Regions from separate parts of the Homo sapiens genome. Here all the other regions are linked to region 1. The links come from fine-mapping of genetic effects on gene expression. A gene starts in region 1. Each other region holds a variant in brackets. All regions are shown on one strand. Distances are from middle to middle.

Region 1 (5,346 bases):
AGTAAAACCCTCCCTCCGTGGAGATCGCGAGCCCCTGAGTTCCACAGTCGCGAAGCTCGAGTGCTTTCGGAGCCCCGGGAGCGCCAGAGGCGCTGCCTTTTGTCCGGTGCCTGAGAAGCCATGGAGAAAGGCAGAGGGGACCACAGGGAGAAGAGGAAGGAGTAGGGGAGAGGAACGGGAGAGGTGAAGCGACCAGCGTCCCCAAGGGTCAGGGCGCAGCTGCGGGGCTGGCCCAGGCTGCGCCCTGGGGGAGATGCTGGCGTTGGTGACATTGACCGCAGTTCCAGAGGAACTCTCCTTGGGACAGCTACGGGCCGTGCACAAAGCGCCCTCGCCTCCCTAGTACTCCACCACGCTTTGAGGAAGGCCGGAAGAAGACGGCCACCCCCATCTGACAGATGGAGAAGCTGAGGCCCAAGAGAGCAAAGCGCCTTGGCTGGAAACCCGGATTCCCTGGTGCTGGTCCCGCTTCTCGGCCCGCGGCCCAGAAGCCTCCCCATCGGGCTCGGGAGTTTGGATCCCAAGAGAGGTCGGACCACCAGGGAAGGTAGTGGACAGGGGGAGATACAGAAGGGGTGGGGGAAGAGGAAGCTGGACTCTCGCACCATCTCCCTTTCTGATCACCCCACCACCACACACACATACACACACACACACACACACACACACACACACACACACCCTTGCTGTTGGACCTCTCCCTCGCGAGGCTCCGGCTTCAGGACCACGGAGAGCTCTGGAGCAACAGCCCGCCCGCGAAGGGATGGGGCCCGAAGAGGCCCACCACCGTGTTTACCAGTTCCCTGCTCCTATTCCTCCAGGAAGCCCTCCCAGATATCTGCCCCGATCAAGCTCTGCTTCCCTCCAGGCTCACTTTGGGTCACTCATAGCATTTAAGAGGGGAAGGTTTAATTAAAATGATAATGATTGTAATAAAAGTCAACAACAAACATTTATTGAATGCTCACTACCGACCGGCATTAACTGATTTAATTCTCACAATGAATCCGTCGCTCACCCTAGCCTGGGAACTTCTGGAGGGTGGGGCCAGGTTGCTGAGCCAGGGACCTAGCGCCTACCCTGGGCCTGGCACCTAGCAGTTCTCCGGCATCCAGGTCTGGACCAATTCGAAAGCTCCCCAGCCCTCGGATGCTCCAACTTCCGTTTTTCTGGCACCTGACCCTGGCTCTCGTCGGTCCATCCAAAGGCTACGCCGTCCATCCGCCCTTCTTCCCCCAGTTTCCTGGTGACCCCCAGCTCAAGAGAGAATACCCGCAGGGCCCAAGCCCTAGCGTTCCCTCTCCCTGATCCTCCCGGCCCCATGCTCAGGTCCGGGAGGCCAGAGACCCCAGTTCAAATCCCAGCTCTACCTCCACCTTGCTCTGTGAAGCAGGCACATCGGTGTGTGCTGTGGAGCTCAGGAGTGCCCCTTGAATCTACTGGCGCTTGAGGGTAGGGGTTTACGGCTCCAACTGCCCGACGAACTAAATCCTTAACCAAATCCTTCCCCCCAGCAAGCATGAGGGGAGCGCTCGGAAAAAAAGCTCCTTCCAGCTTTAAGCTGTGTGGCCGCAGGCGACTCGCGGAACCTCTCCCGGGGCCCGGCACACAGTAGGTGCTCTATAATTACTACCGACTGAGTGGATGGATGAATGGACCAACACGGAACGGAGCTCCAGTTCTTTTCACAAAACAGAATGAGGGGCCTGGGTTAGATTCATCCCAGAGGTTCCTTCGCGTTTAAGCGTCCATGCGGTAGCTTTAGCCAACTTCCCCTCTCAGAACCTCTCTCCCTTTCTGTAGAAGAGGAGCCGGGACTGGACCCGGGCGATCCCTTCCGAGTCTCACGGACCACGCCGGCCAGCCCCGACCGAGTCGCCCCAGCTCTGGGAACCTCTTGCATGATGAGGTGGGGGAGGGGCCGCGCCGTGGCTCTCCCCAGCCTGGCGGCCGCTGCCCCAACACCGGGGCCCGGGCATGGCCCTCGGGCGCCCCATGCCCTGGGTCCTCCCGGGGCCCGCCCCCCTCGTCTGGCCCGCGCGCGCCCCGAGGGTACCTGGCCATTGTCCCGGCCGAGGGGCAGGTCGCGGGGCGCGGGGCGGCGGATGCGCAGCGTCGGCGGCCGCTCGTCGCGCTCTCCGGGAGAGCTGACCGCGGAGCCCGAGGGCTCGCTCACGTCGCTGGCCGTGTCCTCGCTGCCTCCCGGCCCTGGCAGCCCGACCGCGTCGGGCCGGCCAGCGCTGCGCGGCGTGCGCGCCGAGCCGCGGCGGCCCACACTGTAGGCGTCGAAGTCGATGGTCTTGTTCTCGTAGGCGCCCTCCACCGCGGCGAACATGCCGCCGTACTTCTGGCGCGGGGTCTGCGCCGCGCTGCCCGGCCGCGCCAGGTACACGGGCAGGTCGTCCTCGGTGTTCCACGCGCGCCGCCGGTCCGCCATACCCGTCCAAGGCCGGCCACCCACCGCGCTCCCGCCTGCCCGCCCGCGGCCCTGGGCACCGCCGTGCGCCGCGCTCCGCGCCTCGGTGCGGGCCTGCGGCGGCCCGGGCGCGACTGCGGCCCAGGGAGGGGAGGGGCGGGGCGTGGCGCGCGCCGGGGCGGGGCCGGGGCGGGGCCTCTGGGCGGCTGCGGGCTAGCGGCGCGGCCAGCTACAAAGGACCAGGAGGCGGGGATCGCGGCTGGGGCGGGGAGGGACGGTGACGCTCCCGAGCCGCAGCGCGGAGGGCGGGCCGCGGCACCGCAGTGCCCTCGCCGCACCCCCCACTCTCCGCCCCCAGGCGGAGCGCAGGGCGCGAGGAGAGCGCGGGGCAGGAGCCGTGTGCGTACACTCGCGCGCCCACACGCTCTGGAGGCACACGCGGGTTCATACCTGCACACCAGACAATTACGCCAAACACATGAGAGATGCACAGACATGCTGGCACACACACGAGAGTCAATCACACATGCTCTCCAGAGATACACAGGGGCTCGATCATGCACACCATACTCAATGTTGCACACACATACACATATATGCTTGTGCACATTCCGAGTTCATTACAAACACACAACAGAAATCCTCATTGTCTCACAACCCCACTCACACACAGTATCACACCAAGATTAATTGCACAACTGGAGAGGCACATGCGTTGGACACACCGTTCATTCCGTCAGTTTTATTTTGCTGAGCGCCCACTAGTGCCTAGCACTGTTGTAGGAGCTGGGAACAGAGCCATGGACAAAAGAGACCAAGTGCCTGCCCTCCAGGAGCTGACCTGCTAAGGAGGGGAATTGGATACAAAAGCACCCATATGGTGGGCCAAGAGGTGGTAAGGGCCAGGAAAGGTGGTGCAGCAGCCAAGAGGGACATGCTAGAGGCACACTCCGACAGACACATAAGAGAAGCACATTCTTGCATGAGAATCAGCGACACACACATACACGTGCACGCCAATGACACCACACAACACACCAATATCAAAGGCAAGCTCAGGGCGATTCCACACATGTGCATCATAAACTGGCAACAGGATGCCCACACACAAGTCCACACCAGTAATAAAGGAAGTCAAAAGCTTAAATAAAAACGCTCCAGAGAAAGACACACAGAGACAGAGATGACCACACACACACAGCTGGCAGTCAACCAGACAGACAGATATTCCCTCATTCGAGGGGCACAGTCCACTTTTGTTGCTCCTGGAGCTTGCAGTCTGGGCGTTCTGGGGTTTCTCTGTCGTGGAGGTCGCTCTGCTGGGGCTCTCCTCTAAGGCCAGGCACCACCTGCCTCCTATAGACACCTTCCCTTATTTCTCCACGATTATCAGGCAGAGGATCCTGCAAGTCCCTGGGGACCCTACAGTCCCAGCTGCACTTCCTGGAGAGGCAGAATCGCCAGCTGCCGACCCCCTCCTCGAGCCAGTCTAGACAAGCAAAGTCAGGACTGGGTGGGGACTGCAGAGGGGAGCATCAGTGCTTCTTGCAATGTCCCCCCACCCATAGCCTTCCATGCTGGGAGCTGTCCCTTCAACCCCGGGCCCTGCCAGCTGCAAGCCAGAGCTCCCGCAGCGTGACCAAGCTCCAGGAATACCAGACAGACAGATGGATTCATGTTCTTGTTTTATGACTCTTGGGCCCCATGGACTGAGGATCCTGGGGCCGTCGGATCCGTGGCCTCAGCTGACACCTCCCTGAAGCTACTGTCTTTCAACCCTGCAACAAGGGGTCTGTGCAGCAGGTAGGTATTTTTACCGGCCCCCTCTTGGAAGAGGAAACAGGAGGGGAGATGTGAAATGGCTCCCTCAGGGCCTCAATCTCAAGGAGGTTCAGCCAGGCCTAGAGCGTGGGCTCATCCACTCGGTGGGCATTTAGCAAGTTATTTTTCTGTGCTTGAGAGAGAGGCTAGTGTGGGGACACAGATGAGTATTTCTAAGTCTCTGTCTTCAACAAGTGTTTACTCTCATGGGGGAGAGAGTGCTGAATGCGAGAACAGAAAGTTCCACACACAGCCTCCATCTACCTTCCACCCACCGCAGCTGCATCCTGGCTCCTCTCTCCTTGTGTCCCTGGGTCCACTGTGCAGATTTGCCACAGACACTCCTCTTGAGGCCCATCAGCCTCCAGGCTATCTTGCAAGTGTTTTCGATTTTTCAATGAAAATTTTTCTCTGTCCTGTGAAATACTATTCCCAGCCCATTCCAGGCAAGAACAATTCATGTCGAAAACCACATAGAAATTTCTTCTAAAACCCCACAAATGTTCAGGGTGACATAACCCAGAGAAATATCAGAAAACTCAAAAGTCTGAGTTAGGTGGAACTTTGGAGGCCAGGCCTCCTACTGCATGCTTGAATCTGCTCTCAACATCTTGAGGACACAGTCTCTCAGGCTTTGTTGGTGGTGATGGAAATCTTACTGCTTCTAAAGAAAACCCTTTCCATTGTGAGAAAGGGCTGGGCAGTTGCCAAGACTAGAGGGAGTGACGCAAGGAAGGAGCTGAGAAAGTGCTGTCTTTATGCAGAAGCAGGAAAGGATCTTCATAGCTTCTGCTTATAGAAAGTTTACTACGTGCCCGGACCATGGTAAGCACCTAACAGATAGTAACTCTTTTATGCCTCGCAGCAACCTTGAAACTGCCATTTTAGCCTCATTTTACAGATGAGAAAACTGAGGTTCAGAGACATAAATAACCTGTCCAGGGTCACAGCTGGCAAGTAAGACTTCGAGGTTTAAACAGAGTAGTCTGGTGCCAGAGTCCACATCGAAACAACTACCCTTTCCTCTCCCCAAGAGCCTGACTGAGGTGGTCCCACTGGGAGATAAGAGATAAAGGGACCTAGTTTAGGCAGAAGAGTCTAGGTGGTTG
Region 2 (5,000 bases), 180 kb before region 1:
TTGGGCTCAGGTGATCCTCCCGCCTCAGCCTCCCAAGTAGCTGGGACTACAGGCTTGCACCACCATGCCTGGCTAATTTTTTTTTTTTTTCTATTTTCTGTAGAGTTAGAGTTTTGCCATGTTGCCCAGGCTGGTCTCAAACTCCTGGGCTCAAGCAGTCTTCCTGCTTTCACCTCCCAAAGTGCCAAGATCACAGGTGTGAGCCACCACATCTGGCCTTGGTTTTTTCATTTGCTTAGATTCTGTGTACTTATCATTCATTTAACTCTCCCCCACATATGTGCGTTTGTGTTCAAGACATTTGAATGCATTAGATATTTGATCCATTTTATCTTCTTGAGAAAAATATCTCTCCCAGAAACATTCTGACAAGCTCTAGTTTGAGCTGGTTATTCTCTAGACAGCTCTCTAAAGTGTGGACCAGACCAGCAGCATCAATATCTTGGGGAGCTTGATAGAAATGCATATTCTTGGGCTCTACCCCAGACTCACTGAAGGAGAATCTCTAGGGATGAGTCCAGCAAGCTGTGTTTAATAAGCCCTCCTGGTGATTTACATGTTCTTAAAGTTTGAGAAGCAGCTACTCATCATGCTGGGAGTTTCTCACGTCTCTTCTGGGTTGAATCCTGTTTCAGGGATTCCCTGGCACTCCCCTTTTGTTAGGTAATTTCATTGCATGCCTGGAGCACATCCTTCAGTAGCTTTTTCAAAAAGGGATGGATGCAACTCTTTTGAGAACTTCTATGTCTGAAAATATATTCTTCTATCTTTATACTTAATTTGGTAAGAATAATTAGATTGGGAATAATTTTCCTCCAGAATTTCGAAGGCATTTTTCCATTGTCTTTTTTTTTTTTTTTTTTTTTGAGATAGAGTCTTGCTCTGTCACCCAGGCTGGAGTGCAGTAGTGCAATCTCGGCTCACTGCAACCTCCACTTCCTGGGTTCAAGCAATTCTTCTGCCTCAGCCTCCTGAGTAGCTGGGACTACAGGCATGCGCCACCATGCCCAGCTAATTTTTGTATTTTTAGTAGAGATGGGGTTTCACCATGTTGGCCAGTCTGGTCTCGAACTCCTGAGCTCGTGATCCACCTGCCTCGGCCTCCCAGAGTGCTGGGATTACAGGCGTGAGCTACTGTACCCGGCCTCCATTGTCTTCTAGCTGTTGTAGAACCAAACTGGGTTCCACTCACCTGGCACAGTAAGACCAGATAGCGACACTGAGGTTTTATAGTGGTAAAAAGGGAGGTGTTTATTCACAGTGCACCAAGCCAGGAGGACTAGGCAGCTCATGCTCAAATCCTGACTGCCCTGATGACTTCCAGGTGAGGTTTTTAAAGGTAGAGGTAAATTTCAGGAAAGCAGAAGTTACAGGCAAAATTGTAAATCAATACATGAAGGTGACAACTGGTTTTGGCCTAAAAGGGCCAGACATCTTGAAGTGGAGGCTTGCAGGTCAGAGGTAGATTCAAAGATTTTCTGATTTGCAATTTTGTGAAGGAAGAGAAGCTTTGTTTTAAAATGTAGGTTCGGCAGAAAAGAACCTTAGCTCAGGCTCCTGGTCATGACTTCCTCTGGGCTCCCCAGGAAGAGCTTTAGAACAAAGAATGGTGCTCAGAGTTCAGATCTCAGATAAGGGGCAGCTGAGGACCTCAGCCATGGATCCTCAGAGTGGATCCATTGGATGGGGGTCCAGGTTTCTGAAAAACAACTCAGGGACATATGTTAAGATGTTATCTTTAGTTTCTGCAGGGAAACCAAACATCTCCTGACTCTAACTTCCTTGGCTATTGTTTTAGGCGACTATTACCTTCTTGCTTATCAAGTTGTTGATAATTTCCCTTGAAGAAAGTCAGGATTTTCCTTTATTTCCAGGCTTAGGGCAAGGGATTTGCAGGCCCTTAAAAAGGGGGGACTCTGCTTCATCTCATAATTTCCATGGTTGCTGTTGAGAAAACTGATTCTATTCTGATCCTTGATACCTTACACGAAACCTCTTTTCCTTTTGTTCCTCTGTAGAATCTTAAAGAACCTTTACCTTTGCTCCTAGTAAATGAAATTGCACCACGATGGTGTTGGTGAAAGTCATTTGTCATCCACGGTGCCAGGCATTTGGAACGTCCTTTTGATCGAGAATCATTTTCTTGATTTCTTTGATGATTCTTTTCCTTTTATACGTTTTCTTCTTCCAAGAACTCCTATCACTTTTTTAGGTTGAATTGGGCTTCCAATCTTAGTCTTTCTCTCTCACTTCGATTCTCTTTGTCTTTTTTACATTATCTTTGGAGAGATGTTTCTCAACTTTATACTTGTATTGAGTTTTTCATATTTTCAATTTTGAAGAGTCATTTTTTTGTTCTGAGAATGTTCTATCCTGTCCTTATTTTATGAATGGAATACCTTCTCTGATCTCTCTGATAATATTTTAGTTGTTTATTTGTTTAAAGTTTTTTTTCCCTGTGTAGTGCGTTCCCTGCTTGCTTTTTCCTTTTGTTTGTTTTGGATTTTATCTTTCATATTAGAGTCTGTCCTCAAATGGCTAGTGACCCTCTAGACATTTTCAAGTGATGCTGATGCTCCCTCTGTGGGATATATATATTTTTTCCTCAATGTCTTTACTGTAGGACTATCTGACTGGGTTCTTCTTTGCAG[G/A]ACCCTTGTACTGGTCTGCTATGGTTGGTAAACAACCCCCCAAATCTCTGGCTTCATCATCCACCCCAAGACCCACGACAGACTGCTGCATCTACACAGGTTTCTCTCTATGCCCAGCATGGGCCTGCCTCCAAGGCCTTTGCACTTGCTATTCTGTCTCTAGAATGCTCCTCCCTGAGATATCTCAATGGCTCATGGCCTCACTTCTTTTAAGTTCCTTCTCAAATGCCGCTTTGTCCAAGAGACTTTGTCTCCCATCATCCTTCATTCCCCCACCCTCCACTGTTACTCTAGGACATGATTGTCCCTGAATTGCTATGTATTTTTTCATTTGTTTGCCTCTTTCTTCTCTCACTGCAATGTCAATGCCACAAAAGCAGAGGCTGTGTATTTTGTTCGTTACTCTATTCCCAGTACCTAGAACAAGGCCTGACACAAAGCAGATGCTCGATAATAGTAGCTGATTAACTCAGTGACAAACTGGTGATGTTTCTTTAGTGCAAAGATTATATTCATGAGCAGGTAGTGATTAAAGGGGAAGTTGAGAAGTGTCTGGGATAACAGAGTTTTAAATATAGTCTACTCTCCTTATTCATGGTAGTTATGTTCTGTAAACTCACTGAGAACACAGCATTAGCGAACACTGAACCGTTGTTCCTGGGGGGAAAACAGGGTTAGGTTCCTACAAGCCTCTGGTCACAACATTTCCATTAACCAGTCAATACATAGCATAGTTTTATGTATGTTTCTGTTTAAAGATATCTTATTTAATAGATATTTTTAATTTATTAACATTGGACTCACAGACATCAGCTCTGTAACTCACACCTGAATGAAGCTTCTGTAACACACCCATTTCTCCAGAGGGCATGTCATAGTTTTCTTGTGTTTCGGGAGACTAGACAGCACTTCTGCACTGTGTTTGGTGGTTATTTTAAACAGTAAAGTCACCGAGAAAAAGCACAGAAATGCAAAAACTGTGCTACTAGAGTATGAAAAGGATGTTTGTTTACAGCATGAGAGCAGAGACAAGAAGGCAGAGTGCTACTTTGTTCCATCTCAACTGAGCACGTGCATGCTGGGCAACTCAGATTGTTCATGCTCTGCATGTATTTGTGAATAACTGTAAAAGCGCCATGAGCATTGGTTTGGGGGTTCTAAATAAATATTAGCAAGTACAGGAATTGGCAAATACAGAATCCATAAATAATGAGCATTCATTGTAGTTCAGAATAGAAACTACTCTATAACTTAAGGTCACCTAACATATTGTCTTAAAAACCATTCAATAGAATGATCAAGATCAACAGGAAAATTATATGCATGTGCCATTTCTCATGCTTAGTTGTTAAATCCAAAGAGCTCCCAGTCCAATGGGGTCCCCAACCTAGAAGAAAAATGGAACGAGCTTTGCTCTGCCTCTTGCCTCAAGTCCTGAGGGTGCACTGAAATGGGGCATCCTGGAGGCCTTAGGGGAACCGCTCAGGAAGGTGACCTGTGCAGTCTTGAAGGACATGTAGCGGACCCCACGTGGGGTGGGAGGCGTCACACACAGAAGACCAAGCTTGAGAAGCACAGAGGCGAGCAGAAGTGGCTGCTGGACTGGGGGAGTTGACTGGCAAAAGTCACGGTGGGGACCAGGCCGACTGACCTCAATGTTGTGTTTCTATCCACCCCCAACTCCTGACCTTCGGGTTTTAGAAAGACGACACTCAAAATCTGCTCAAGAATTTGGAGTCTAATGCGCAGACCCCCTCGGAAACTGGCTCCCCATCAAGGAGGAGGAAGAGAGAAGTGCAGATGTCGAAGGACAAGGAAGCTGTTGATGTAAGCTTGGTGTTGATGTTTGTTTGTGGAGGCACATGTGGGAGGTGGGGTATTCCCCCTGGAAGCCGGGTGTCATGTAGACAAGCCTCTGACAGATATAGTTTCCCAATGGGCTGCTTTTCTGAGGCATAATTTACATACAGTCAAATGCGCAGACTTTAGGTTTTACAGTTTGATGAGTTTTGACAATTGCATGCCCCTTAGAACAAATACCCCCCTGAGAATGTTTTCATCACCCAGCAAGTCCTCTAGTGCCCCTTTCTGGTCACTTCCCGCCCCCACACACTTCCAGAGGTGCCCATGCGTGGGATTTCCATTGATTGGTTCTGCAGTTCTGGAACCTTATGCAAATGGAATTGTGCTGTTCTGTGCCTGTGTTCCCTCCACAGAATGCCTTAAGATGTTTCCCTTTCGTTGTGTGTATCAATAATTCACCCATTTTTATTGCTCAGTGGCAGTCAACTGTGTGGATGTGCCACACTTTGTTGATTGCTCACTGTTTGTGTGTATTTCATTGGCAGA
Region 3 (5,000 bases), 140 kb before region 1:
TGGTGGTGGCACCACTGCAGTGAGAAGCCAATGGAGGGGTCCCCCGAGAACAGAGGACAGGCCTCTAGGTCCCTGGTCCAGCTGCCTCCCTCACCCAGGGGGCCTCTTCCAGGCCCATACTTGGAGCTTCTGCATTTGCCACAAAGGGGTAGGGTAGGTTTTTCTATCTTTGAGACCCATTTGAAATAAGAGGAAGATAAGGCTATTCAGCTCCTCGTTATTTGGATATTTCTGGGCCCCTGTCCTTGATGTCACAGAGCCCAGTGTGAGTCCAGAGTGTGGAGACAGTGCCTGGGTGACCTTGGTGTCCCAGGGCCTCGGTACAGTCCTCGGAACGCCTCAGCGCTGGCGTTCAGGACACGTGGGACGCAGGCAGGGAAGGGTGAATGAGCGCATGCGTGCCTGAATGAACCAGGACATGGACAAATGGGCAAACGAGCGAATGAAGGAGGATGGAATGGGTGGGAGAATGAACGAACGACACCAGGCTCCCAGTACACACTCAGCACCCACCTTTTTCCAGTCCCGCCCTTCTCTCTCATCTCACCTCCTGCCCGTAGCATCACCAAAGATCTTAGGGGGTTTACCTCCTGGTCTCTGCTGCTGCTCGCTGAGCCTGGCTCCCCATCTTCCCTCCAAGGAGTCCTTCCTTGTCCTTAGAGACTCCATTGAAACATCTCCCCAACAGGGAATTTTCTCCTGCAACCCTTCCCTGAGAAGGGTCTGTTCCTCTGTCCTTCTGCCCCACCTCGCCCCTCGCTGATGCTCTGTTTAGGGCTGGCTGGGTCTCCCCCTGCTGATGCCCGGGTTAGCCCAGTCTCCTGCTGCTCTGCTGGGGTCCTCAGGGAAGGGCCTCCACCCCGTGGTCACAGTGGGGCCTGGCTGGTTGCTGACTGCACTGACCTCCAATCGCCAGTCTGTGTCACCCCTGCTGGGTTCCCATCAGTGGGTCTTCCATGGCCTGGGTGGTCAGAAAGTGATGTCTGGGTGGCTGCAGCCAGGACAGAGGAGTGACAGAAGTGGTCCAGTGGCCCCTCCTCATCCTGGCTTTAACAAAAGCGTGGTGGTTTGTGGTGTTTCCTGGAAATCGGATTTGCTGACCCTGGCATCAGCTGTGAAAGCCATGTGACAGCCCCATGCCTCAGTTTCCTTGTGTGTAATACAGGTGCCAACATCCTTCTTTCTAACCTGAGATGCAGGGGATGGTTGGAGAACCTTCTGGAAAAAAAAAAAAAAACCCTGCATGTTTCTACCAGACTCAGCTCTTGTTTTCCTCACAGGCTTTTCATGAGGTCCTGGAGAGGCAGAGGCTGATGCAGTGTGACCTGGAGGAAGAGGAGAATGTCAGAGCCACCGAGGCTGTGGTTGCACTCTGCCAGGTACATGGCCTCTGTGGGGACCAGCAGAGAAGCCCCAGGGTCTGTGTGTGTGCGAGAACCTCACATCCTCCTGGCTGGGGACCCCAGAGGTGGTTCAGGTCCAACCCCGCACTCATTGGCCGGTGATCCACGCAGGCTGTGTCCCCTCCATGCGATCCTCCTTGCCCACATCAGAAACCGAGGCAGTTGGCCTTGGTCCTCTCTGAGGCACCGTCCATTTTTGGGGTGCTGAGGATTCTTATCTCCACACATCCCTGTCAGCAAAGCTCTTTGGAAATCCGTTCTCCCCAGGTGAGAAATAGGCCCAGGGTTTCTGGGTGTCATCAGTGTAAAGTGGTGATGAAGAAGGGGTTCTGGGCTGAAATGGGGACGTCAGAGATCACATGCCACACCACCTCTTTCCCCTGTGCAACCGTGTGCAGGTCTGGGGTGGGGAGGTGAAGCTGGCCATGCTTGCCCTGCAGGGTGACTTTCAGAGAGCAGGAGAGGGCACCTGAGCCCTCTTTAGGGGCAGGAGTCACAGGATGCCATGCTGAGCCAGACAGAGCCCCTGCCTCAGGCAGCATCCTCAGTTGTTGGAAAGACAGGAGTGTGGACACCTGGCTATGAAGGAATCAACCAGTGGGTGTTGGGCAGCACTGGGAGGAGGAGAGGGCCTGGGTCTGTGTCCTGGCTCCCCGCTTCCTCACTGCGTGACCACAGGAGCATCACTTGGCCTCTAGCCCTCAGTTTCCCCATCTGTGAAATGGGGACAGTCATAATTCTTCTTCATGGTGTGC[T/C]AGGAGGACTGTGTTTGGGGACCCGAGACAGCAGCTGGCACTCGGAACACCCCAGGGCACGTTGTCTCCAGTGACAGCTTCCCTGCTTCTGAGTGCAGAGGAGAGGCAAGGGGCTCCTGGGTGAAGGTGACGTCAAGGACAGCAGCCTGTAGGAGGCATTGCTGAGCCAAGCATTGGATGAGACCAGGCCCAAGTGGACAAGGAGTCAGCGGGCATCCCCATCAGGGAGAAGCTCATGCAGTGGTGGGAAGTGCAACTCCTCACCCGGATGGGAGCTGCACTGGGGTCAGTCATGTCTCTGTTAACCTGCTAGGGCTGCCGTGGTGAATACCACTGACTGGTGGGTTAAACAACAGAAAAGCGTTCTCTCAAGGTTCTGGAGGCTGAAGCCCGAGATCACGGTGCCAACAGGATTGACTTCTGGTGAGGCCTCTCTTCCGGGCTTGCAGACAGCTGCCTTCCCGTTGCCTCCTCACACGGTTATTTCTCTGTGCTTGGAAGACTGAAGGGCAGGGGAGAGAATGAAAGAGAGGGCTCTGGTCTCTCCCTTTTCTTATAAGGACACCAGTTCTATGGGATTAGGGCCCCACCCTGATGACCTCATCTAACCTTAATTACCTCCTTAAAGGCCCTGTCTCCAAATACAGCCACATGGGATATTGGAGGTTAGAGCTTCAACATAAGAATTTGATTACTTAATTACCTCCAAATACAGTCACATGGGATATTGGAGGTTAGGGCTTCAACCTAAGAATTTTGGAGGGAGACACAATTTAGTCCAAACAGTGTCCTTCAAAACGTCATGTCCATCTGGAACCTCGGAATGTGGCCACACTTGGAAATAAGGGCTTTGCAGATGTAATTGGTTAGATCGCACAGTTGGTTAGGTCCTACTGGATTCGGGTGGGCCCTAATTCTAATGGCTGGTGTCCTTATAAGAAGGCCATGAGAAGACATAGAGACACAGGGAAGGAGGCTGTTTGAAGACAGAAGGAGGGACTGGAGTGATGCAGCCACAAGCCGAGGAACACCTGCAGCCACCAAAAGCCAGAAGAGCCCAGGAAGGGCCCCTCCCAGAGCCTTTGGAGGGGGCGAGGCTCTGCCAACACCTTGGTTTCATACTAATGCCCTCCGGAACGGTGAGAGAATAAACTTCGTTGTCTTAATGCACCCAGTTTGCGGCGCTTTGTCATGGCAGCCACAGGAAACTAAACGGAAGGCGATCTTTGTTCAGGGCTAGCTCCTATCTTAAGTGCCTCTTGAGTATTTGATTATTTAATTCTCATGAGATTCATGAGGAAGACACTGCATTTTCCTTCCTTCCCAGATGAGGAGTGAAGAAGTGTTTTCTCCAGAAATGGGTAGGATGGGGCTCAATTTGTCAAAGCCCTGGGGCCCACAGACAGGAAAGGAACAACTTTGTCCCCAGAGGAGTCAAGACTCACATCCCTGGCTGGGCATGGGGAAACCAAGTTCTAATCTTCCTCTGAGTGCTAACATGCTGTGTGACCTTGGCTGGTTACATAACCTGTCTGTGCTGGCCCATGTATCTTGCCCAGGTTTTACACAGCTAGCAAGCGGGGAAGGTGAGATTTAAAATAAAGGCTTTCTAATGTTAGTGCTGATGTGCTCACCCCAACCATGCTGCTCAGTGTTGACGGCTGTTGTGAAACCTCGCTTCTTGTGTTTTTAGTTTAAAAGTATGTAAACAAGAGACCACAGTAAAGGGGATGCAGCACAGAGCAATTTATTGCAAAGGAGAAAGAATGTTCTGAAAGTTAGGTGCAGAATAGACAGGATGCCCTGGGAGATGATTCAGAGCAGATGAGACAGCCTTGACTTACCGGGGAAACTCCCTTTCTGGGGAGTCTTATGTGATTATTCATAAGGGCGTGGGAAGAAGCATTATTAGTAAGCATGTTGTGGAGGGCGGTGGGGGCGGGTCCTCTGAGTGCCCAGGCACAGTAGCTGTACACACTTGTTCATACGTCACATGTCTCATTAGCATCTTAAGTCTCCGTCCAAAGGTGTGTTTTTTACTATTATAATGGCGCAGAGGGTCAGTCTGAGGACAGATAAAATCAAAGTGCACCTGCCGACTGCAGGAGACGTTGCCTACTGCAGATAACTGCTTGAAAGAGCCAGACTACAGTGTAAATGCTGAGGCTTACTGTGTTGATGGTTTGGTCGCCGCATCCCAAGGACATGGTCACTTCCTTGACTACCTATCCTGCCTTACGTGTGGGCTGTGGAGCATAATGGTGAAGCCCAGGCTCTGGAGCCAGACATCTGGGGTTCAAATTCCCAGCCGGGCCACTTATTTCCCCTGCCGGAGGTGAGCCCAGGTGGCCCAGAGGCTATGGGCGGCGGGGGTGGTTTCAGCAGCATTCTCCTCCTCACCCCCTATGGTAGCTTATTGGATTCTCACCCATCCTCTCTAAAGCAGTTCTCAAACCTTGCTGTGCATCAGAATGTCATCAAGATTAAGGAAATTGAGGTACAGGTTAGATCACTTGCTCACAATTACACAACCAGGCTGACAGCCTGAGTAAAACCCTATCAATGATTGCTGCAAAGGGTAAGCCAAGCAGTATATAAATGTAAACCCAGAACATCTGAGACGGGTCTCAGTTCATTTAGAAAGTTTATTTTGCCAAGGTTGAGGCTGCGCGAGCCTGGGACACAGCCTCAGGAGGGCGCGTCCTGACGACACGCGCCCAAGGGGGTCCGGACACAGCGTGGTTTTATACATTTTAGGGAGACAGGAGACATCAATCGGTACATGTAAGAAGTACATTGGTTCGGTCAGGAAAGGTGGGACAACTTGAAGCAAAGACAGGAA

Alleles and levels. Alleles are on the strand shown, and positions count from the first base shown. SD is a standard deviation of normalised expression in the study named. Not every link is listed here.
For the expression in liver of the gene that starts at base 2,554 in region 1, allele A in region 2 goes with a higher level than allele G (moderate effect, 0.44 SD a copy in GTEx).

Evidence for each region. PIP is the estimated chance that this variant, and not a neighbour inherited with it, causes the effect. A credible set is the group of variants that fine-mapping cannot tell apart.
Region 2: its variant is the best candidate, but not a certain one, in a credible set for the expression of CRMP1 in liver (GTEx, PIP 0.71).
Region 3: its variant is the best candidate, but not a certain one, in a credible set for the expression of CRMP1 in fibroblasts (GTEx, PIP 0.55).

What each region holds. Positions count from the first base shown.
Region 1 is chr4:5,890,533-5,895,878 of GRCh38, forward strand. It overlaps CRMP1 (collapsin response mediator protein 1), which reads right to left and starts at 2,554. Exons shown (of 14, transcript NM_001014809.3): 1 at 2,057-2,554. The coding sequence starts at 2,437. RefSeq lists enhancers at 1-415, 416-1,159.
Region 2 is chr4:5,714,896-5,719,895 of GRCh38, forward strand. It overlaps EVC (EvC ciliary complex subunit 1), which reads left to right. Exons shown (of 21, transcript NM_153717.3): 2 at 4,353-4,478. Among named protein-coding and RNA genes, the nearest start is that of EVC, 6.2 kb to the left of the region's middle. RefSeq lists a silencer at 4,529-4,658. The variant G/A (reference allele first, on the strand shown) is at 2,652.
Region 3 is chr4:5,754,984-5,759,983 of GRCh38, forward strand. EVC (EvC ciliary complex subunit 1) reads left to right here. Exons shown (of 21, transcript NM_153717.3): 11 at 1,281-1,379. Among named protein-coding and RNA genes, the nearest start is that of EVC, 46 kb to the left of the region's middle. RefSeq lists enhancers at 3,419-4,618, 4,287-4,336. The variant T/C (reference allele first, on the strand shown) is at 2,159.